Homo sapiens: one gene and its partners. The protein of the gene in region 2 purifies or fractionates together with the protein of the main gene of each other region. This does not show direct contact. Each region holds a gene or a part of one and is shown on either strand. Other genes may lie near its edges. The genes, in order: CHP1, GPAT4 and EHD2.

Region 1 (7,191 bases), on a different chromosome or scaffold from region 2:
AAACAGGCTTGTTGTTCACACAAAGCCTGTTTGGTGGTCTCTTCACACGGACACGTGACAGCAGGGAGGGTATACGTGGGGTGGCTCCTCTTCGGGGTTATGACAAGCGAGGCCCAGCGTAGGCAGTGTAGGTCCACTGTGCTTGCCAAACACCAAGAGGGCTGTCATCTGGGTGGATTCTTAGAAATGCAGATTCCTGGCCTGGCACGGTGGCTGTAATCCCAGCACTTTGGGAGGCTGAGGCGGGTGGATCAGCTGAGGTCAGGAGTTCAAGACCAGCCTGGCCAACATGGTGAAACCCCAATCTCTACCAAAAATACAAAAATTAGCCAGGTGTGGTGGCACGTGCCTGTAATCCCAGCTACTCAGGAGGCTGAGGCAGGAGAATTGCTTGAACCTGGGAGGCGGAGGTTGCAGTGAGCCAAGACTGTGCCATTACACTCCAGCCTGGGCAAGAGTGAGACTCCATCTCAAAAAAGAAATGCAAAGAAAAAGCCATGTAAAACCAGAGTATGTCACCGCTGAGGCTGCACATGAATGAGGAGGTGGGCAATTTAAGGAATGGACATATACTGGATTTTTAGGCTTTTTCTACATTTAAGGAGTCAGGGAGTCAAGAATAGAAATTGCGTCTTAGCTGGAATGAATGGGAAGTGGCCACGGCTGACAAAACCATGTCGAAGCCAAAAGTGCTGGCCCCTCGATGAATGTTTCCACTTCATATATCCAGGCAGCAGCAGAGTAGACTGCAGCTGACCGTACAGACATAAACTTGAGTAAGGGAGACACTGTGATTTCAAACTTGAAGGGACTAAGTTACATAAAATTCTTGTAAAATGGACAAAAGTTATTTTGTTTCAACCACAAGTATTTATTGATGGATCGAAGATACAATTTTAATGGAACAATAAGGCACAACCGTGGATTAAAACACTTTGCTATACAGCCAAAAGGGGGGAAAATCTATAACCTTAGGAACTTTATGCCAATCAAGAAGCCTCTAAAGTACCTCTCTAATAGATCAGTATCAGACATTCTTCCCTTTTACATAATTCCTATATTACATCACTTAATCATAAAATCTGACTGATACTTCATAAAGAATTCCTCATTCATTTATATTTGAGCCATCCAGCCTGGCTACTCCCCTGTTCTCCACCCTTTTCCATCACTTTGCAGTGGTATTTTTTAGCAATCTTCAATAGTTTTCCAAAGCAAGGAAACAAGCAAGCAAGCAATGAGTCAGAAAGTCAACCAAGGGCAGATGTGTGGCTAAATACACTCATAGAGACATACATTAGGATAGCAATAGCCTGATTCACTGAAGTCTAAACTAAGCTGACTTGGCAGAAAAGTTGCTGTGGCTCGCTCAAAGATCTGTAATGCCACCTTAGGTTGTGCTACTAGTGCCAGACCTCTTGTTTTTAAGGGATTAGCAGTGGTCTAAACAAGAAGCCAGGGAGCTAATGTAACCAGGCAGCTAATGACACAACAGTCAATGCTTTGGACATGTATTAGGAGCAGACTATGGCTTCCGTCATTAACATTTGCCAAGTGTAAAATTCATAAAGAATTTTGCGGCTGAGCACGGTGGCTCATGCCTGTAATCCCAGCACTTTGGGAGGCCGAGGCAGGAGGATCACCTGAGGTCAGGAGTTCAAGACCAACCTGGCCAACATGGTGAAACTCCCTCTCCACTAAAAATGCAAAAATTACCCAGGTATGGTGGCACACGTCTGTAATCCCAGCTACTTGGGAGGCTGAGGTGGGAGAATTGCTTGAACCCAGGAGGCAGAGGTTGCAGTGAGCCAAGATCACGCCACTGCACTCCAGCCTGGGTGACAGAGTGAGACTCCATCTCAAAAAAAAGAATTTTGTGCAAAACTTCAAGACACTAAGGAAACAATCTTTAAATATTTTGGACTGGGGCCAGGCGTGGTGGCTCACACCTGTAATCCCAGCACTTTGGGAGGCTGAGGCAGGCGGATCACGAGGTCAGGAGTTCGAGACCAGCCTGGCCAACATGGTGAAACCCTGTCTCCACTAAAAATACAAAAAATTAGCCGGGCATGGTGGTGCACACCTGTAATCCCAGCTACTTGGGAGGCTGAGGCAGGAGAATCACTTAAATCCAGGAGGCTGAGGTTGCAGTGAGCGATCGCACCACTGCACTCCAGCCTGGGTGACAGAGCAAGACTCTGTCTCAAAAAAAAAAAAAAAAAAAAAAAAAAATTTGGACTGGGATATTAGGCACTTCCGTAACACTAATATTTCTACTTGGAAATGTGAAGTGGAAAACATTCCAGTGCACATAACACTGAGGCATAAACCATGCTGCAAAGGTGTGAATGCATGAGGCTTTATAGGGTGCCCAGCCTCCTTATTAAATAAAAGCCATGAGAAAGTCCCTAGGCATATTGTCAGAGCAGCCATTCTGGTGGTAACGGTGTCCCCAAACTAAGCAAACCTGTAAGCATACTGCTGCTTTTTCAACAGTCAACATTGCACTAACAAGAGGAGCCACACAGGTACAAAGTTGAGAATCAGAGGCCAGAGATAGAGTGATGTGGGCAAGCAACCTAGAAGACTTGGCTCCATACCTCTCACCAAGGCCACCTTTCAAAAAGGGTATCTCCACCCAGCAGCCTTTGATGACAGAGCAGAGTGCAGAGGATGGTCTCATACTTCTGAGAGAAGTATTGATTACCAAAAAGCTCCTGAAGAGGCAACATCCCAGAGGCCCATTTAATAATGAAGGTAAATAAAAACTGCCAGACCCCTGAACTATCCTGCCAAGTCAGAAATACATATATAGGACATAGCTTGTGGTGCCAAGTAGAACAGAGGAGATTTTGAGGCTTAATGAAAAGCAGAAAGACTGCCAGAGTAAGTGAACAGTATGTTGGAAGACAGGGAAGTAGGAAGCAAAGAACATATAAAAAGGATGAAGAAGCATGCTGGCAGACTCGCTGGAGGGAAGGCAGCAGGGCTACAGTCTACATCTGGTGAAAGAGCTTTGCTGGCTTGTTCTTGGCATGATTGCCTCTCTCACTTTCTCAGACTGGATGGATGTGTGGCATTCAGCAGCAGAATGGGGAAGATGATATTTATAAATGAAGAACTAGTGAATGGATACTGAACAGAAATATATAGGGTGTACCATTCTGTAATGCCCTGTTTATACACCAAAGGCAGGTTTGTGTTGACAGAACATATTTGGGGTTGTCATGCAACAGCAGTAGTACTTTGGGAGAAGGGGAATGAGGGGGTGGAGGTGGAGTTGGTAGAAGGAGGACTTTCAAGTTCCAGTTCTTAAATACTAGACCGCAAGGAACAGTTTGGTCTCCTTTAGTGAAGAAATCGGATGCTCATTTTCTGTTCTACATCCACCTTCTCCAAAACCTGGGGGAGAAAACCAGTAACAGTTACAAAGGTTATGAAGATTACAACACTCCCAAGCTCTTATCTGAGTAATGTTTTCCCCCCTTCCTCCTGTGCAGTAAAACGTAACTTTTTTTTTTTTTTTTGGAGGCAGAGTCTCACTCTGTTGCCAGGCTGGAGTGCAGTGGTGTGGTCTCGGCTCACTGCAACCTTGGCCTCCTGGGTTCAAGCGATTCTCCTGCCTCAGCCTCCCAAGTAGCTGGGATTACAGGCACGCGCCACCACGCCTGGCTAATTTTTGTATTTTTAGTACAGATGAGGTTTCACCATGTTAGCCAGGCTGGTCTTGAACTCCTGACCTCGTGATCCGCCCACCTTGGCCTCCTAAAGTGCTGGGATTACAGGCGTAAGCCACCGCGCCCAGCCACTAAAACGTAACTTTTTCAAACAAGAAGTAAGTGACCAACCTTAACAAATTCTGTGAAAGATATGGCACTGTCCCCATCCTGATCAGCCTCCTGAATGGTCCTGTCTGCGATGCTGCCCAGCTGCTCATCTGAGATATTTACTCCGACCATCATGCGTAGCACCTGGAAGACCAAGAGCCAGGAATTACAAGGGCCTTGGGAATCAGAGGGACTCTTTACTAAGATTAAAAATAAAGCTATCACCATCCTCCTTTTCCTTTGATGCCCTCAAATACAGTCATGCACTGCATAATAATGTTTTGGTTAATGACCGACTGCATATATAATGGTGGTGCTATAAGATTATAATACTGTATTTTGATGAGAACACATAGACACAAAAAGGGGAACCACAGACACTGGGGCCTACCAGAGGGTGGAGTAGGAGGTGAGAGAGAAACAGAAAAAATAACTACTGGGTACTAGGCTTAGTACATGGGTGGCGAAATAATCTGTACATCAAACCCCCATGACAAGAGTTTACCTACATAACTAACCTGCATATGTAGCCCTGAACCTAAAAGTTAAATTTTTTTTCCTTTTTTTTTTTTTTTTTTGAGACGGAGTCTCACTCTGTTGCCCAGGCTGGAGGGCAGTGGCACGATCTCAGCTCACTGCAAGCTCTGCCTCCCGGGTTCACGCCGTTCTCCTGCCTCAGCCTCCTGCGTAGCTAGGATTACAGGCGCCTGCCACCGTGCCCGGCTAGGCTAATTTTTTGTATTTTTAGTAGAGATGGGGTTTCAGCATGTTAGACAGGATGGTCTCGATCTCCTGACCTCGTGATCCGCTCACCTCGGCCTCCCAAAGTGCTGGGATTACAGGCATGAGCCACTGCGCCCGGCCAAAAAATTTGTTAAAAAAGATTACAATACCATATTTTTACTGTACCTTTTCCATGTTTAGATGTAAGTATTTGTTTTTGGGTTTTTTTTTTGAGACAGGGTCTCGCTCTGTTGCCCAAGCTGGAGTGCTGGGTTGCGAATGTGGCTCACTGCAGCCTCACCTCCGAAGCTCAAGTGATCCTCTCACCTCAGCCTCCCCCAAGGAACTGGTACTACACTACAGGTGTGTGCAACCATGCCTTTTTTTTTTTTTTTTCCTGAGGCGGAGTTTCACTCTTGTTGCCCAGGCTGGAGTGCAATGGCACGATCTCGGCTCACTGCAACCTCTGCCTCCCCAGTTCAAGCGATTCCCCTGCCTCGGCCTCCCGAGTAGCTGGGATTACAGGGATGTGACACCACACCCAGCTAATTTTTGTATTTTTAGTAGAGATGGGGTTTCGCCATGTTGGCCAGGCTGGTCTCGAACTCCTGACCTCATGATCTGCCCGCCTCCGCCTCCCAAAGTGCTGAGATTACAAGTGTGAGCCACTGCGCCCAGCCACTTGGCTAATTTTTCAAAATTTTTTTGTAGGAATGAGGTCTCACTGTGTTGCCCAGGCAGGCCTTCAACTCCTGGGCTCAAGCAATTCTCCCTCTGCCACCTCCCAAAGTGCCGAGATTATAGGCGTGAGCCACCATGCCCAGCCACAGATATGTTTAGATACACAAATACTTACCATTATGTTACAACTGCATATAGTAGTCAGAACAGTAACTTGCTGCACGGGTTTGTAGTCTAGGAACAATAGGCCACACCACATAGCCTAGGTGTGTAGTAGGCTATACCATCTAGGTTCATGTAGGTACATTCTATGATGTTCCTACAACTACAAAATTGCCTAACATTGCATATCTCAGAATGTATCCCCATCTTTACCATCATGTGACTAAGTAACAGCTAAAAGGCTGAAACCTTTATCTTCTCATCTAGGCAATGATGTAAGCAGAACTTATCTAGGTGACTGGATAAGAAGACAAAGACTAAGGGAGAGTCCTTTGCATTTTGCCCTTCCTCATTCTTCTTACCTCATTCTGTCTGGTGGCACTGCAGCCACCCTGGAGCCATGAGGTGAGTAATATGAGCTATGGATGCCAGGGCAGGAACACAGAATAAGCCTGGTTCCTGGACATCAGTTAGGTACTGTACCAGCCTGGACAATCTATGCCAAACATTCTTGTTGCGTGAGCCTAACTAGTTCCTTATTGATTTAAATCAGTTTGGTGGGGCTTTCTGAAATCCCACCCAAAATGTCGTCCTCTTCGAAGTGCTGCATTAAGCCAACTATTCCTAAAGTATGGCCCAAGAAAACATAAAAATCCTTGAAGAGTTAAATGCTAAATCCCCTTCTGAGAAAAATAACAAGCACAATTAAAAGGCTGCGAGAATTGAGTAAGAGAATTTAACACTGTTTCACCAAATCTGTCTTAAACTTAACCAATCCTTGGGCCCCTGGGAATTCTATTAACACCTTTAGGGTGTGAACATACTTTGAAAATTGCTTCCTTAAACAAAATAAGCAACTTTAACAATTTGACTGTCAGGCAATATGGAAAGGCTGGTTCTTAGGCAATATGAAATGGGAGACAGGGTACCTTTCTGACTCCTTATATTATTATTGCAGTCAGCCACCTCTGTCTTCAGATGGCAAGAACTGAGCTTTTCCACAGAAAGGAAAGGGCCTCTAGCCCAGTGGCTCATAGACTTCCTTTCCTCCACTCCTTTACTCCCTTCTACAATCTCATGAAATAGATTCTTTTTTTTTTTTTTGAGATGGAGTCTCACTCTGTTGCCCAGGCTGGAATGCAATGGCACGATCTTGGCTTACTGCAACCTCTACCTCCCAGGTTCAGGCGATTCTCCTGCCTCAGCCTCTCGAGTAGCTGGGATTACAGGTGCCCAACAGCATGCCTGGCTAATTTTTGTATTTTTAGTAGAGACGGGATTTTGCCATGTTGGTCAGGCTGGTCTCGAACTCCCGACCTCAGGTGATCCGCCTGCCTCGGCCTCCCAAAGTGCTGGGATTACAGGCGTGAGCCACTGCGCCCGGCCTGTAATTTACTTTTTAAAAATCGATTTCATGGGCCGGGCATGGTGGAGAAACCCCATCTCTACTAAAAATACAAAATTAGCTGGGCGTGGTGGTGCATACCTGTAATCCCAGCTACTCGGGAGGCTGAGGCATGAGAATCGCTTCAACCCGGGAGGCAGAGGTTGTGGTGAGCCAAAATTGCACCATTGCACTCCAGGCTGGGCAACAAGAGCGAAATTACAAGCCAGGTGTGGTAGTGCATGCCTATAGTACCAGCTACTCAGGCGGCTGAGGCAGGAGGATGGTCTGAGCCCAGGAGTTCAAGGCTGCAGTGTGCTATGATCATGCCTGTGAATAGTTGCTGCACTCCAGAGTAGGCAGCAGAGGGAGACCCTATCAGTCAATCAACCAATCCATCAATAGTAAATTACA
Region 2 (8,050 bases):
ATTGGGCAATCCCACTTCAGGGTAGATACACAAAATAATTGAAAGCAGGATCAATCCCAAATGTCCGTCAACGACAAATAGATAAAGAAAATGTGGTATACAAATACAATGGGGCCAGGCGCAGTGGCTCATGCCTGTAATTCCGGCACTTTGGGAGGCTGAAGTGGGTGGATAACTTGAGGTCAGGAGTTCGAGACCAGCCTGACCAACATGGTGAAACTCCATCTCTACTAAAAATAAAATTAAAAAAAAAAATTAGCCAGGCATGGTGGCGCATGCCTGTAATCCCAGCTATTTGGGAGGCTGAGGCAGGAGAATCTCTTGAACCCAGGAGGCGGAGGTTGCAGTGAGCCAAGATCATGCCATTGCACTCAAGCCTGGGAAACAAGAGCAAAAACTCCGTCTCAAAATAAACATACATACATACAATGGAATATTAGCCCTAAAAAAAAGGGAACTCTGACACATGCTACAACATGGATGAATCTGGAGGACACTGTGCTAAGTGAAATAAGCCAGTCACAAAAAGACAAAATCCGACTATTTATATGAGGCAGACTACTTGAACTCCCATTAGCAGAACGTAGAATGGTAGAATGGTTGTTACTGGGGGTAGAGAGAAGAGAAATGAAATTTTTTTTTAATGGGCATAGAATGTCAATTTTTTTTTTTTTTTTTTTTTTTTAGAGATTGGGTTCCCCCATGTTTCCCAGGCTTGGTCTCAAACTCCTGGGCTCGAGCAATCCACTTGCCTCAGCCTCCCAAATAACTGGAATTACAGGCATTAGATACCATCCCCAGCCTTGATGGAAATTTCTGAAGATTCATAATAATGAAAATATATTTAACACCACTGAACTGTACACTTAGAAATGATTAAGATGGGCCAGGCCCAGTGGGTCATGTCAGTAATCCCAGCACTTTGGGAGGCCAAGGTGGGTAGATCACCTAAGGTCAGGAGTTCAAGAGCAGCCTGGTCAATATGGTGAAAACCCATCTCTACTAAAAATGCAAAAATTATCTGGGCATGATGGCGCGCACCTGTAGTCCCAGCTACCTGGGAGGCTGAGGCAGAAGAATCACTTGAACTGGGAGGCAGTGGTTGCAGTGAGGCGAGATCTCACCACTGCAGTCCAACCTGGGCCACAGAGTGAGACTCCGTCCCCTCTCCCCTCCACCAAAAAAATTAGCCAGATGTGGTGGTGCATGCCTGTAATCCTGGCTACTCGGGAGACTGAGGTGAGAGGATCGCTTGGACCTGGAGGCGGAGGTTGCAGTGAGCTGAGATTGTGCCACTGTACTCCAGCCTGGGCAAGAGAGTGAGACTCCATCTCAAAAAAAAAAAAAAAAGAACTGATTAAGATGGTATAATAAATTTTAGGTTCTACGTATTCTACCACAATTGAAAACATTTTTTAAAAATAATATTTATTTTACTTTCTTTGGCTTTTTATTTTGGTGCTTGGAAATGAGCATTGATGTTGCTGGTTGTGCAGTCGACAGTTAGGGATTCACCTCTTAATGAATGGCAAACTCTTTGTAGATGTTAAAGTTGACTTTGGAAGGAAGATAAGTTGTACGGCACAGGCATGGTACTCTCCTGGGGAAAGGGGTTCTTCCCAGGCTCACAGCACTGTGCACCATGTACAGAGCACACATTTTGGGGAAATGCCCTCATACTATGAATGAATTCAAAGTTAGTATGGGGTAGGATCTAAATCTTGTGATCTCTTTCTTCTAAAGGACTACCCTTCATCAGGTTTTAAAAATTACTCCTATAATTTCTGCAGTATGAGTTTTTTCATTCTAGAATGTGAAAATACTGCCAACAATAATCTAAAGACAGCCCATATTCACAGCGACAAGAAGTTCAGTGTTGGCTATAGCTCGGTCATGCTATGGGCAGGAGGCCTTCTCTAAAGATAAGTCTGCTTTGTGTCAAGCATTTCAAGCATGACTTGCTTGTTTCATCTGCCCATTTACATTCCTTGTACCTAGAAATGAATGTGATAAAAGTTTTGGTGCCTACAGGAACTATATTTACCTAGTTCATGTTGGCTTCCCACTCAGAGGGAAGTTTGATTGCCTTCCTGCACTTGAGAAGTTTAGAGAATGTGCCAGTGAATGTGCACACTCACAAGGTGTGTGTGTGTATCAGTGTTAATACCCAACAATTGAGCCTACTATTTGCTTGGGCAAAGAACACCATTTTCTCTTGAGCCTCTAATATGTGTGAAATATTTTAAGATTTCAATATTATGTACAAAGAACTAGTAGATGGTAAGAATTGTGAGAAAATATAACCATGAGAACACAAAGAGAGTACAGCAGATGAGTGGGCTACTTCCAAGACTGGTTCTGGGGGCAGAAAAGGAGACCAGACGAAGGACTCCAAAGAGCAGTTGAGATCCTGGTGGCCACTTTAAATCCCTATCCCTAGCACTGTGGAGAACACAACACAAAAATGTATGATGTCTGGTTTCTTCTTCTTTTTTTTTTTTTTTTCTGAGATGGAGTCTCCCTCTGTCGCCCAGGCTGGAGTGTAGTGGTGCGATCTCAACTCACTGCAACCTCCGCCTCCTGGGTTCAAGCAAGTCTCCTGCCTCAGCCTCCCGAATAGCTGGGATTACAGGTGCGCACCACCACGCCCGGCTAATTTTTGTATTTTTAGTAGAGACGGAGAGACGGGGTTTCACCATGTTGGTCAGGCTGGTCTCGAATGCCTGACCTCGTGATTCCCCCGCCTCAGCCTCCCAAAGTGCTGGGATTACAGGGGTGAGCCACCGCGCCCGGTGGTTTCTTCTCTTATGGAATTTAATGTCGTTGACGATTAGACGTGGCCATGCATTACTCAATCTTGAATTGGGATCCCCAAAAAAGCTGGGCGAGTAACAAGGGCTCAATGAATGGATAAGTGATTGAGTTAATAAATACGTGATCAGTTCCAAATGGGTAACATTTAGTTATATTTGGTGGAGATAAGTAGTCCAGTGTTTTGGAGCTAAGTGGTTATTCTTTTTTTTTTTTTTTTTTTTGAGTTTGGGTCTCGCTCTGTCACACAGGCTGGAGTATAGTGCCACAATCTCAGTTCACTGCAACATCTGCCTCCTGGGTTCATGCAATTCTCCTGTCTCAGCCTCCCGAGTAGCTGGGATTACAGGTGCGTGCCATCACCCCCGGCTAAATTTTGTATTTTTAGTAGAGACGGGGTTTCACCATGTTGGCCAGGCTGGTCTCAAACTCCTGGCCTTAAGTGATCTGTCCGCCTCTGCCTCCCAAAGTGCTGGGATTACAGGCGTGAGCTACCCGCGCCCCGCTCCCCCCACCATTTTTTTTTAATTTTCAAAATTTTTGTAGAAGTGGGGGTCTCGTTACGTTGCCCCGGCTAGTCTCAAACTCCTGGCCTCAAGCGATCCTCCTGCTTTGGCCTCCCAAAACGCTGGGATTACTGGCGTGAACTACCATACTCTGCCCTTTATTCTTACAGAGATTTTGAGGTCTAAGAATGTGGACTTTAAAGATTTCATTATCAGATTATGCATTTAGCACGGAATGACAATCTGACAGCCGTGTACAGCGTAAACCGGCGGAGAGGGCTTGGCACTAAAGGCAAACTGTCTTTTAAGAACAGGAAAAAGAAAGGTAATATATATTTTAAGGAGGTCCCATTTTAGGGGAGATAATAAGCTTGGGTTAGGCGTCCGAAGTCAGAAGATATAGTAAGAAACACACACGCAAACTCCAGCAGCCACCAGCTAGACTTGAGTAGAGAGAGCAGGTCCAAGTGGAGGTGGAAGTTGGAAAGTTGCATCTGCCAGGCAGGGCGAAAGTGGCCTACACCCACTCCTGGAGCACCCTGCTTGACGAGCAAGGTAGACGAGGCTGAGGGATACTGCTGGTGATGACGGTGGTCGTGGTGATGGTGCTGGTAGCTAACAGATCTTGAGCGTACCAGGCCCTGAGCTGAGTCCTCTAACGGGCAGAATGTCGCTGCATACGGACAGCAGCCTCAAGAGGACAAGGTGATTTAGTGACTCTAGCCTCTTCCCGCGGTGCCAGCCTGATTTCACCCTCTCCGGAACACACAAGCGAACCTCCGGGGAGGGAGCCAGTATCGGGTCCTAACGCAGGGAAGCGCTCCGCTTTCTGAGAGGGACGCGCCAGCGGAGGGACAGCCAGGGCCCGGCCTCTCCTGCTCCTGCCCCGCCCCGCCCCCGGCAGTGCCCCCTAGTCCGCCAGAGGGCGACTCCGCGGGTCGCCCAACCCGCGACCGGTCCACGCGGCACCCGCCTCTCCCTAGGCCCCCGCCCTGCCGGCCCGCGCGCGCCCGACGGGAGCGTGCGGGGCGGTGGGCGCAGGGTCACGTTGGGCGGCGCAGACAAAGGCGGGCGCGCGCACGTCCTGACGCAGCTTGGGCCCGCGGCGGCGGCAAGGGCGGGAGGGAGCGGTCGCCGCGGGATTTGGAGCTGCCTAGCCTCGCGGTCGGTGAGTAGGAGGGAGCTGGCCCCTTACCTCAAAGTCTCCGACCTCCGGGGAGCCGAGAGCGGGACGTGGGAGCCGGGCTTGGGCGGCCGCGCGGGGCCTGCGGTCTGGGACGCCCCGGCGACGCTGCGCCGGCGTCAGGAGGCACCATCGCCGCGCCCCGGGGATCCCCGGCGGGTGGAGCGGGTGCCCCCCGTCCGGGATGGAACGGTCCGCGCCCGCCCCGAACCCCGGCCGCCCGCCTCTCCGCTCGCCTGCTCTCCGAGCCCGGCTCCTCGGAGCCCCTCGCCTCCCCCAAGTCCCAGGTGTGCGCAGCCCTCCCGCCCCGGGAGTCCGGGGATGTGGGTGGCGAGGGCTGCTGGGCGTTGGAGCACCAGGAAGCGCCTTCCCCTGTCATTCCCCTTCCTGTGTTCTCTGGCTGCCGTAAGATGCATGTCTTTACCCTCTCCTTCTCCAAATGCATGCTCCCATTTTTCTTTAGGATTTCTTAACTCCTGAAATCCCTTGCCTTTCCTTTTTTATTTCAGCACCCTCTGAGGCATCCTTCTCCCAGTGGGGCTTGTTTATTTCCTCGCTTTCCATGTCACAGAGGGCTGAAGTTTAGCTGTTCAGAAGTTGCAGAAAATAGCTTATAGGAGACATACGGTGTAGCACGATGGAAATAAGTTCCATCCTCTGCCAAGTATTACCATGGATCTTCTCATGGATAACCTTGAGGTCATTTGAGGAATTTTGTTTTTGGTTCATTTTCCTTAATTTTGGCTGAACTTTGAGGAGCTCTCCTTAGTTTCATGTCTTGTAGATTCTATCTCAATCCAAGGGAAATGGTGTGAAGAGCAGTTATACCATACCAAAGTCTCCAGACAAAATCCTGTAATAATGCCAATCAAATATACTTCTCTCTTTGAAAGAGATGTGCTTTTCTTTTCTTTTTTAACTTTGTATTTTGGAGAATTTCAGACACAGGGAAATAGATGGAATAGGGAACCAGCATGTACTTGTTCTGGCCTCCTCAGCCACTTAACTGTGGCTATTCCTGTGCCATACACACCCCACCCATTTCCCCTCCCGTATGTCTCAGGGAGAACTTGATGCAAGATGAGTCTGTCAAAAGTAGCTTCAGTTCCATAATGAAAACCACCATACCAAGTCATAAGGTGCTTTTTGTTTTGGAACACAGCCTACTCATGAGGTCTTCAGCTAAGAAACACAGTAGAGTTGAAGAAAGAGCACAGCAAAAGGTATCTTAACATGATAGAACAGGTTAAAAGAAAAAGTATGGCCGGGCGTGGTGACTCACGCCGGTAATCCCAGCACTTTGGGAGGCCGAGGCGGGCGGATCACCTAAAGTCAGGAGTTCAAGACCAGCCTGGCCAACATGGTGAAACCCTGCATATACTAAAAATACAAAAATTAGCCGGACGTGGTGGCAAGTACTTGTATTCCCAGCTACTCGGGAGGCTGAGGCCGGAGAATCGCTTGAACCCAGGAGGCAGAGGTTGCAGTGAGCCAAGATTGCGCCGCTGCACTCCAGCCTGGGCGACAGAGCGAGACTCGTGTCAAAAAAAAAAAGAAAAGAAAAAAAGTGTTTCAGATCTGGATGAGAACATTCGGAACGTCCTGTTCAATGTTTTCATTTTTTTCTGAGCCCTTGGAGGTCCAGAGAAGTTCAGTGACTTGTCCAGAGCTGCAGGTCTTAAGAGGCTGAAATCTCGCCTCTGCCTCGAGGCTGCGGTTCCACTGACCCATACTACTTGCCTTCAGGAAAGAGAAATGGTGTAGGAAGGCTGTGGATGAAGACGCTTACATTCATGAAGGATTTGGATAGGCGAACATGAGCTTTTCCACCAAATTTCAGAATTTTAAGAAATGCCTTAAATTATTTCTTAAAAATCAATTTGGGGCAGACGAGAAGTTCTGATAATAGTTTTTAGGGAACATGATAAAATTCTGACCTTAGAAGTGGTATACCAGTTTGAGAAGAAGAACAAGCTATAAACGGTGTAGATAACATTCACGGCTATTTAAGAAAGAGTTACTAAGGGAAACCAGAATGACTTAAGAGTGTTACTCTTCTTTTTCTGAGAGAACAATAGCATCATCTCAGAAAGCCTTTCATGCCATTAATAGGTAAGAATCTGGGCTTCTTGGACCATGGGTTAGACTTTCTTACAAAACCATAATATGCATTTCCTAGCAAAATTTATGCTATTACATTTCCTTATCTCAACAAAGACTGGTAAATTCAGTACTTATTCCTCAATTTTCCTACCCTTAAAATGGGGATATTCTGCCTCTCCAAGGAATGCTGGGAACAAGCAAGTCCTCATGTTAGGGGTCTTTGAGTTTTCATGGAAGTTTAGGTTATTTATATGATGACATAGTTGTCAACTTACTTTCAGGATGGACTTTTCTTTTGTGAGTTTGTGACCTAAATACAATAGTTGTTATGCATGTCCAGTTTATGGAAGTACCACTGCAATAACAGCATTTGAGTGTCATGGTAAATCATTACCCCTAAAGATAGAGGAGGGAGGAGGAGGCAACTGTTGTGTGTCTATTTTGTGTTTGGTGTGAGGAGTGTTGTGGCTAGGCTCTTCAGAGGCTAGCCTAACTTGCTAAGTGGTTTCTGCTAAAGAAAAACCCACTTTTCTTGTGTGTGCTTGTCACCACAAGTTAGCTTTTATTAAAAACAAAACAAAACTCTCTAAGCTATCTGGAGATGATTTGGCCCTGGTTAAACATGAACTGTACTGCAGAATTGTTTGTTTGGGTAAAGTAGAACCTCATTATGACGTGTCTTTTACTTCCTACTGTGTCATTGTGCTCATGGAGAGAACTTGACGGAATATCATCCGTTCCATGTATCACTAAACCATGTAATAGCGTACACTATGATTAAGGCTTTTTAAGAGAATAGAATTTTAGAGTTAGAAGGAGTCTTCCAAGTGCTTAGAGTTTCCCCTGAGTCCTTTAATGTACTTTTTCACCTTTAAAACACATGCAGACACGTACACATGCCACACAAACACAGAGTCTCATCTAGGGCTCTCTTCATTTTGCCTTGTACAATCTTAGTATGTTTGGATCCCACCTCCAGTTAATTTGTAAACCGAAGATCTGCAATAATAGAAAAATGCTTTGTAAAACAGGAGCGTAATACATTTGCACTTGACTTTTATTTATTTATTTTATAGAGATGGTCTTGATCTGTGGCTCAGGCTGGAGTGCAGTGGCATGATCAAGGCTCACTGCACCCTCAGCCTCCCTGGCTCAAACGGTCCTCCCGCCTCAGCCTCCCAAAGGGTCGGAATTACAGACATGAGCCACCATGCCAGGCCTTTGTTGACTTTTTTTTTTTTTTTTTTTTTGAGACAGAGTCTTGCTCTGTCGCCCAGGCTGGAGTGCAGTGGCGCAATCTCGGCTCACTGCAAGCTCCGCCTCCCGGGTTCACACCATTCTCCTGCCTTAGCCTCCTCAGTAGCTGGGATTACAGGCGCCTGCCACCACGCCCGGCTAATTTTTTTTTTGTATTTTTTAGTAGAGACAGGGTTTCACCGTGTTAGCC
Region 3 (8,071 bases), on a different chromosome or scaffold from region 2:
AGCCTGGCCAACATGACAAAACCCCATCTCTACTAAAAGTATGAAAAATTATCTGTACGTGGTGGCACATGCCTGCAGGCCCAGCTACTTGGGAGGCTGAGGTGAGATAACTGCTTGAACCCAGGAGGCAGAGGTTGCAGTGAGCCAAGATCACGCCTCTGCAGTTCGGTCTGGGTGACAGAGTGAGACTCTGTCTCAAAAAAAAAAAAAAAAAAAAAAGCTAGCCAGGCATGGTGGCATGTGCCTGTAGTCCCAGCTACTCTAGAGGCTAGGCAGAAGGACCTTTGAGCCCAGGAGTTCAAGTACACAGTGAGCTATGATCACCCCATTGCACTCCAGCCTGGACAACAGAGTCTCTGAAAAATATATAAATAAATCTCTAAAAAATATATAAATAAATTTTTAAACGTATATATTTTATTTTATTTATTTATTTATTGAGACAGAATCTTACTCGGTCACACAGGCTGGATTGCAGTGGTGTGATCTCAGCTCACTGCAACCTCTGCCTCCCGGGTTCAAGGGATTCTCCTGCCTCGGCCTCCCCAGTAGCTGGGACTACAGGCACGCAACACCATGCCCAGCTAATTTTTGTATTTTTAGTACAGACGGGGTTTCACCATGTTGGCCAGGCTGGTCTCGAACTCCTGACCTCAGGTGATCCACCCGCCTTGGCCTCCCACAGTGCTGGGATTACAGGCATGAGCCACTGCACCCAGCTGTGTATATTTTAAATATTTATATTTTACAAATATAAATATTTAAGTCTCAAATAAATAAATGAAAATAAAATAAACAGTGTTCTTAAAGAGACTACTCTTTTCTTCCCCTTCCCAACTTCCTTTTCTTTTTTTTTTTTTTTTTGAGACGGAGTCTCGCTCTTTTTGCCTAGGCCGGAGTAAAGTGGCGCTATCTTGGCTCAGTGCAAGCTCCGCCTCCCGGGTTCACACCATTCTCCTGCCTCAGCCTCCCGAGTAGCTGGGACTACAGGCGCCCACCACCACACCCAGCTAATTTTTTGTATTTTTAGTAGAGACGGGGTTTCACCGTGTTAGCCAGGATGGTCTTGATCTGCTGACCTCGTGATCCGCCCGCCTCGGCCTCCCAAAGTGCTGGGATTACAGGCGTGAGCCACCATGCCTGGCCCCCTTCCCAACTTCTTGCTGGCTGGAACGCAGACACAATGGCTGGAGCCTTCACAGCCCTTTTGTACCATGAAGTTCCTTGGGCCTGGAGGCCAGGCATGGAAGAGAAATAAGACAGAAGGGGACTAGATCCCTGGCTCTGTAAAGCACCAAACCAGTCCTGGATCACTTTCTGGGACTTTTTATGGAGGAAAGAAAGAAAAACTCTCTATCTTAATTTAGCCACTGTTATTTTGGGTTTTCTCTTCACTCCCCTAGCCTGACTCATAAAACCATGCTCCCACGGAACTATTTGAGGGAGGCGCTTTCCAGAACCTGCCATCCATCCCTCTGGCTTTTGAGGTCCCATCTCAGAGCTTCCAGAAACCAACCTTCCCATCACCCACCCCCAACATTCCCTCCTGGGCAGCTTCCCACCTGCATTTTCTGGCAATCAGGAAAGTCCCCAGGGGAGATGTGATGTTCCAGCTGAATCTTCGCAAAGATGACGGGCAGTTTGAGGATCAGCTGCTTCTTCTTGTTCTCCTTCCCAAACACAGAGGGCATCTCCTTCTTCAGGTAGCTGATGATGTAAGCGTGAACCTGTGGGAAGGGTTCTCACCTCAGCCTGCATCAGGGTCCACCAGGGAGCTTGTTAAAACACAGGCTGCAGGCCCCACTCCCAGAGATTCTGATTTACTTGGTCTGGGCTGGGGCATGAGAATTTGTATTTCTTTTATTTCTTTTTCTCTCTCTCTCTCTCTTTTTTTTTCTTTGAGACGGAGTCTCGCTCTGTCACCGAGGCTGGAGTGCAGTAGCACAATCTCGGCTCACTGCAACCTCCGCCTCCCGGCTTCAAGCAATTCTCCTGTCTCAGGCTCCTGAGTAGCTGGGATTACAGGCATGCGCCACTATGCCCAGCTAATTTTTGTATTTTTAGTAAAGATGGGGTTTCACCATGCTGGTCAGGCTGGTCTCAAACTCCTGACCTCGTGATCTGCCCACCTTGGCCTCCCAAAGTGCTGGGATTACAGGTGTGAGCCACCGTGCCCAGTCTTTTTTTTTTTCGAGACAGAGTCTCGCTCTGTTGCCCAGGCTGGAGTGCAGTGGTGCAATCAGCTCGCTGCAACCTCCAACTCCTGGGTTCAAGCAATTCTTCTGCCTCAGCCTCCCAAGTAGTTGGGATTAACAGGCATGCGCCACCACACCCGGCTAATTTTTTTGTATTTTTAATAGAAACGGGGTTTCTCCATGTTGGCCAGGCTGGTCTTGAACTCCTAATCTCAGGTGATCCACCCGCCGTGGCCTCCCAAAGTGCTGGGATTACAGGCATGAGCCACCGCGCCTGGCCTGCTTTTTTTTCTTTTTTTTTTGGAGACAGGGTCTCGCTCTATCACCCAGCCAGGAGTGCAGTGGTGCGATCATAACTTACTGCAGCCTCAAATTCCTGGGCTCAAGGGATCCTCCCGCCTCAGCCTCTCAAGTAGCTGGGATTACAGGCAAGAGCCACTGCCCAGATGGGAATTTGCATTTCTGACAAGTTACAGGTGCTGCAGGCGGAGGTGCCACACTGTGAGCCTCATGGCCTCCTCCTGCTGGGGCTCACCCTGGGCTCCTCCTCTCTGCTAACTAAGTGAGCTGAGTCCCTCCCAGTTTTAAACACCCCTCCAAGAGGTCCACTCCCGAATCTGCATACCAGCCTAAGCCTCTCCCTCCAGCTCAGGACTCAGAGCTAATTGCCCTGTCAACATTCCTGGATAGCTCCATACCAGGATGCCCTAAGTGGAATTTGAGCCTAGCCCTCAGAGCTGTGTCGCCCTCAGCTGTGCCCATCTCTGAAAAGGGCATCCCCAGCCCTGCCTTCCCAGTTGAGGCCAGAAATCTAGAAATTTTATTTTTATTTATTTATTTATTTTGAGACGGAGTCTCACTCACTCTGTCACCCAGGCTGGAGGACAGTGGCGCAACCTTGTCTCACTGCAACCTCCACCTCCGGGTTCAAGCAATCCTCCTGCCCTGGCCTCCCGAGTAGCTGGGATTACAGGCACGTGCCACCATGCCTGGTCAATTTTTGTATGTTTAGTAGAGACTGGCTTTCACCATGTTGGCCAGACTGGTCTCGAACCCCTGACCTCAAGAGATCCACCCGCCTCGGCCTCCCAAAGTGCTGGGATGACAGGCGGGAGCCACCCCGTCCGGCTCTAGAAATCACTTTTTTTTTCTTTTTGAAAGGGAGTCTCACTCTGTTGCCCAGGGTGGAGTGCAATGGCATGATCTTGGCTCACTGCAACCTCCACTTCCTGGGTTCAAGCAATCCTCCTGCCTCTACCTCTCGAGTAGCTGGGATTACAGGTGCCCGCCACCACTAATTTTTGTATTTTTAGTAGAGAGGGGTTTTCACCATGTTGGCCAGGCTGGTCTCAAACTCCTGACCTCAAATGATCTGCCTGCCTCAGCCTCCCAAAGTGCTGGATTACAGGCGGGAGCCACGGTACCCAGCTCTTGAAATCATTATTGATTTGATATTTGATTCTTCCTCCTGTTAAGTAGCCACATCCAACCTATCAATGAGTCCCTTTTGCCTCCTCCTATGTCTCTCCCTCTCTCCCCTACTTTCCTTTTCTTTTTTGCTTTTTTTAGACAGGGTCTGGCTCTGTCCCCCAGGCTGGAGTGCAGTGGCACAATCTCGGCTCAGTGCAACCTCCACCTTCCCAGCTCAATCCATCCTCCCACCTCAGCCTCCTGAGTAGCTGGGACTACAGGCACCCGCTACTACGCCCAGCCTCTCCCCTGCTTCTCATTTCTCTCCACCTCAGTGGCCACCATGTCCATTCGAGCGTCATCCTCTCTTGCCTGGGGAGACACCCAAGGTGGCCCGACAGGTCTCCCAGCTCCCCATCCTGCCCCAATAACCCTTGCTCCATGCAGCAGTGGCCCAAGAGGGCATTTTTCAGGAAGGAACATGAGCCCAGGGGATGCTGCTCATAACTCTCTATTTGCTTATTGAAGTTCAAAATTTCTACCGAAGCCGACAAAGCCCTACAGCAGCAATTCACGAAGTGTGGTCCAGGGAAACCCAGGGGTCCTCAAGATCCTTTCGGGGGTTCCTGTGGTCAAAATTATTTTAAGAACAATACTAAGACGTTATTCGCTTTTTGCTTTCTTCACTCTTTTTTTCTCCCAAATGGACAGTGGATTTTTTTTTTTTTTTTTTTTTTTTGAGACAGAGTCTTGCTCTGTCACCCAGACTGGAGTGCAGTGGTGCAAATAATGACTTTATTTATTTATTTATTTATTTATTTTTTGAGACAGAGTCTCACTCTGCCGCCCAGGCTGGAGTGCAGTGGCTCAATCTCGGCTCACTGCAAGCTCCACCTCCCGGGTTCACGCCATTCTCCTGCCTCAGCCTCCCAAGTAGCTGGGACTACAGGCGCCCGCCACCATGATAATTTTTGTATTTTTAGTAGAGACTGGGTTCCACCATGTTGGCCAGGATGGTCTCGATCTCTTGACCTTGTGATCCGCCCGCCTCAGTCTTCCAAAGTGCTGAGATTATAGGCATGAACCACCGCGCCTGGCCTAATGTCTTGATTTATTAATCTTCTCTTCTCAAGAGGCTGAGATGGGAGGATCACTGAAGCCGGGGAGGTCAAGGCTACAGTGAGCCATGATCATACCACTGCACTCCAGCCTGGGTGACAGAGCAAGACACTGTCTCAAAAAAAAAAAAAGGAGCCCCAGAAGGGCTGGAAACTTGTCTGTTCCCTCCATCTCCAGCACCAGTACAATCTGTACAGAAAACACTCAGGAAATATTTGTGGAATAAACCAATGAACTTGAGAACCTTTGAAACACAATCTTTTTATTTTTTATTTTTTATTTTTTTTTTGAGATGGGGTTTCACTCTGTTGCCCAGGCTGGAGTGCAGTGGTGCGATCTTGTCTCACTGCAACCTCTGCCTCCTGGGTTCAAGCGATTCTCCTGCCTCAGCCTCCTGAGTAGCTGGGATCACAGGCATGCACCACCATGCCCAGCTAATTTTATATTTTTAGTAGAGATGGGATTTCTCCATGTTGGTCAGGCTGGTCTTGAACTCCTGATCTCAGATGATCCGCCCACATTGGTCCCCCAAAGTGCTGGGATTACAGGTGTGAGCCACCACACCTGGTCCACAATCTTATAAATTATCGAAAAATAAACAAGGAGAGCAGAATAATGAATATTGGTATGTCTATATTTTATAGGAAGCTCACAAATTAAATATTGCTCATGCCTATAATCCCAGCACTTTGGGAAGCCAAGGGGGGAGGATCACTTGAGGCCAGAAGTTCGAGACCAGCCTGGGCAACATAGCAAGACTTGGTCTCTAAAAAAAAATTTTAAAACTAGTTGGGTGTACTGGCGCGCGCCTATAGTCCCAGTGAATTGCCGGGGCTGAGGAGGGAGGATCACTTGAGCCCAGAGGTTTGAGACTGAAGTGAGCTATGATGTCGCCACTGCACTCCAGTCTGGGCGACACAGCGAGCCTTTGTCTCTAAAAAAATGAATAAATAGGCCAGGCGCGGTGGCTCACGCCTGTAATCCCAGCACTTTGGGAGGCTGAAGCGGGTCGATCACCTGAGGTCAGGAGTTAGAGACCAGCCTGGACAACATGGTGAAATGCTATCTCTACTAAAAATACAAAAATTAGCCGGGCTGATGGTGCCCACCTATAATCCAAGCTACATGGGAAGCTGAGGCAGGAGAATCACTTGAACCTGGGAGGTGGAGGTTGCAGTGAGCTGAGACCGTGCCATTGCACCAGCCTGGGCGACAGAGTGAGACTCAGTCTCAAAACAAAATAATAATAAATAAATGCTTTTACAAAATGCAGTATATTGGCCGGGCGTGATTACAGTATATCACGCCTGTAATCCCAGCACTTTGGGAGGCAGAGGCAGGCGGATCATGAGGTCAGGAGATCGAGACCATCCTGGCTAACACAGTGAAACCCCGCCTCTACTAAAAATACAAAAAATTAGCCAGGCGTGGTGGCAGGCACCTGTAGTCCCAGCTACTCGGGAGGCTGAGGCAGGAGAATGGCGTGAACCCGGGAGGCGGAGCTTGCAGTGAGCCGAGATCATGCCACTGCACTCCAGCCTAGGCGACAGAGCGAGACTCCGTCTCAAAAAAAAAAAAAAAAAAAATGCAGTATATCTGGAAAGACACACAAGAAACTACTTATGGGGGTTGCCTCTAGAAAAGAGGCCCTGGGAGCTGGTGGGGTGAGGTGTGGGAGAATCATGTCTGATAAAGTATGAATGCCTTTCCATGAGATGGTCTTAAATGTTCAATAAAAAAGACTAGTTAAAAAATTCTTTTAGGCCAGGCACAGTGGCTCATGCCTGTAATCCCAACACTTCGGGAGGCCGAGGCCAGCGGATCACCTGAGGTCAGGAGTTCGAGACCAGCCTGGCCAACATGGTGAGAACCCATCTCTACTAAAAATACAAAAATTAGCCAGGTGTGGTGGCACCTGCCTGGAGTCCCAGCTACTCGGAAAGCTGAGGCACAAGAATCACTTTAACCTGGGAGGCAGAGGTTGCAGTGAGCCGAGATCATGCCACTGCTCTCCAGCCTGGGTGATAGAGAGAGACTCCATCTAAAAAAAAAAAAATTATATATATATGTATATATATATATATATATATATTTTTTTTTTTTTAAAGAATCACAAATTTAGACTGCTGAGAACGTTGGTGGTCCCTGACTGGTTCTAAATCTTCATCTCTTCCACCTTCCACCACCACCCTGTCTCCAGCCCCGTTAGGCTCTCAGTTCAAACACATCAAGTGCATGGCTGCCCCAGGGCCTTTGCACATGCTGTTCTCACTGCATGGACTGCTCTTCCACCCGATCGCCACTCGGCTCACCCCTTCCTCTTACCCCTTCCTCTCCTTCAGAGCGCTCTAAAATAGTCCCTCGCCAGCCCCTCTTTCCTCCGCTTCATTTTTCTTCATAACCATTGATTTGTTTAATGTTTGCTTCCCCACTAAAAAGTAATTCTATGAGAAAAGGAATTTATCTGTGTTCCCTGCTGTATCCCCAGAGCCTAGAGGAGTACCACATGCGATCGGCAACTGCTGAATGAATGTCACTGGGCCACTGCAGAGAATGTGGTCTGAAGGTTCAGGGCATCTTGGCGTCTATAGAATCAGACCCTCCCAAGATCTTGGCCTTACGTATCACAGCATCATAAAATCTCCCCTTCTAACAGCTATCACTTCAGCCAAAGGACTTAGAGCCAGAGGATTCGTCCACACCCTCCATCGTACAGATGGGAAACTGAGGCACTGGGAGGAGGGTGAATGCCTCCTCCCAGAGAGTCCAGGAAGGCCTGGTATCTTTGGAGGAGAGCATGAGGGGAGGTTAACAGTATGGCTATTGTTGGTGACGACCAAGTGTGGCGGACTCATATGTGAGGAGCAGGGGTGGGGGTGCGACACGGGGCAAAGGAGGGGCAGTGAGCCTTGGTCACAGCGGACCCTAAATCCCATGCTCCTGTGTCCTGAACGGCACTGGGGAGCCATGGATGAACCTGCAGGAAGAGGGGGAGGGAGTGCCTAATGGTCTGAAGGACCAATCAGGGCAGGGGTGTGGCCGGGCTGGGGGCGGGGCCTGTGAGAGCGGGCCAATGGAGCCAGGGGGCAGGGCCGAAGGGCGGCTCCGTAGGGACCAAAGGAGGGTAGGCGGGAGGGCGCTGATGGCTTTTCCAGAGAGGAAGCAGGGGAAGGTGCCAGGAAGAGATAAGGTGAGAGGGCGGGCTGGGCCGGGGCTGGGTCCCTGACTCCGGGGTTTGTCTGGGTTTCCGGAGCCGCCCCCAGCCCGGCGGGGGCACCAGGTGTCTGGCCCGGACCCACCCCTCTGTCCCTGGGCCTTGTGCTCCAGCTCCCGCCAAGGGACCCGCG

Evidence for each region.
Region 1: the proteins of GPAT4 (region 2) and CHP1 purify together in Homo sapiens (co-immunoprecipitation; 2 studies listed by BioGRID and IntAct, with this or other methods). This does not show direct contact.
Region 3: the proteins of GPAT4 (region 2) and EHD2 purify together in Homo sapiens (affinity purification with mass spectrometry; 2 studies listed by BioGRID and IntAct, with this or other methods). This does not show direct contact.

The regions. Positions count from the first base shown.
Region 1 is NC_000015.10:41,275,547-41,282,737, reverse strand, and holds the end of CHP1 (calcineurin B homologous protein 1), read right to left. Parts: intron 3,972-7,191; coding exon 3,849-3,971; intron 3,403-3,848; coding exon 3,349-3,402; 3' UTR 851-3,348; downstream 1-850. UniProt on the Homo sapiens protein: Calcium-binding protein involved in different processes such as regulation of vesicular trafficking, plasma membrane Na(+)/H(+) exchanger and gene transcription. Involved in the constitutive exocytic membrane traffic.
Region 2 is NC_000008.11:41,573,794-41,581,843, forward strand, and holds the start of GPAT4 (glycerol-3-phosphate acyltransferase 4 isoform 1 precursor), read left to right. Parts: upstream 1-4,406; 5' UTR 4,407-4,485; intron 4,486-4,512; exon of another isoform or gene 4,513-4,575; intron 4,576-4,722; exon of another isoform or gene 4,723-4,787; intron 4,788-8,050. UniProt on the Homo sapiens protein: Converts glycerol-3-phosphate to 1-acyl-sn-glycerol-3-phosphate (lysophosphatidic acid or LPA) by incorporating an acyl moiety at the sn-1 position of the glycerol backbone. Active against both saturated and unsaturated long-chain fatty acyl-CoAs.
Region 3 is NC_000019.10:47,730,025-47,738,095, reverse strand, and holds part of EHD2 (EH domain-containing protein 2), read right to left. Parts: intron 1,728-8,071; coding exon 1,563-1,727; intron 1-1,562. UniProt on the Homo sapiens protein: ATP- and membrane-binding protein that controls membrane reorganization/tubulation upon ATP hydrolysis. Plays a role in membrane trafficking between the plasma membrane and endosomes. Important for the internalization of GLUT4.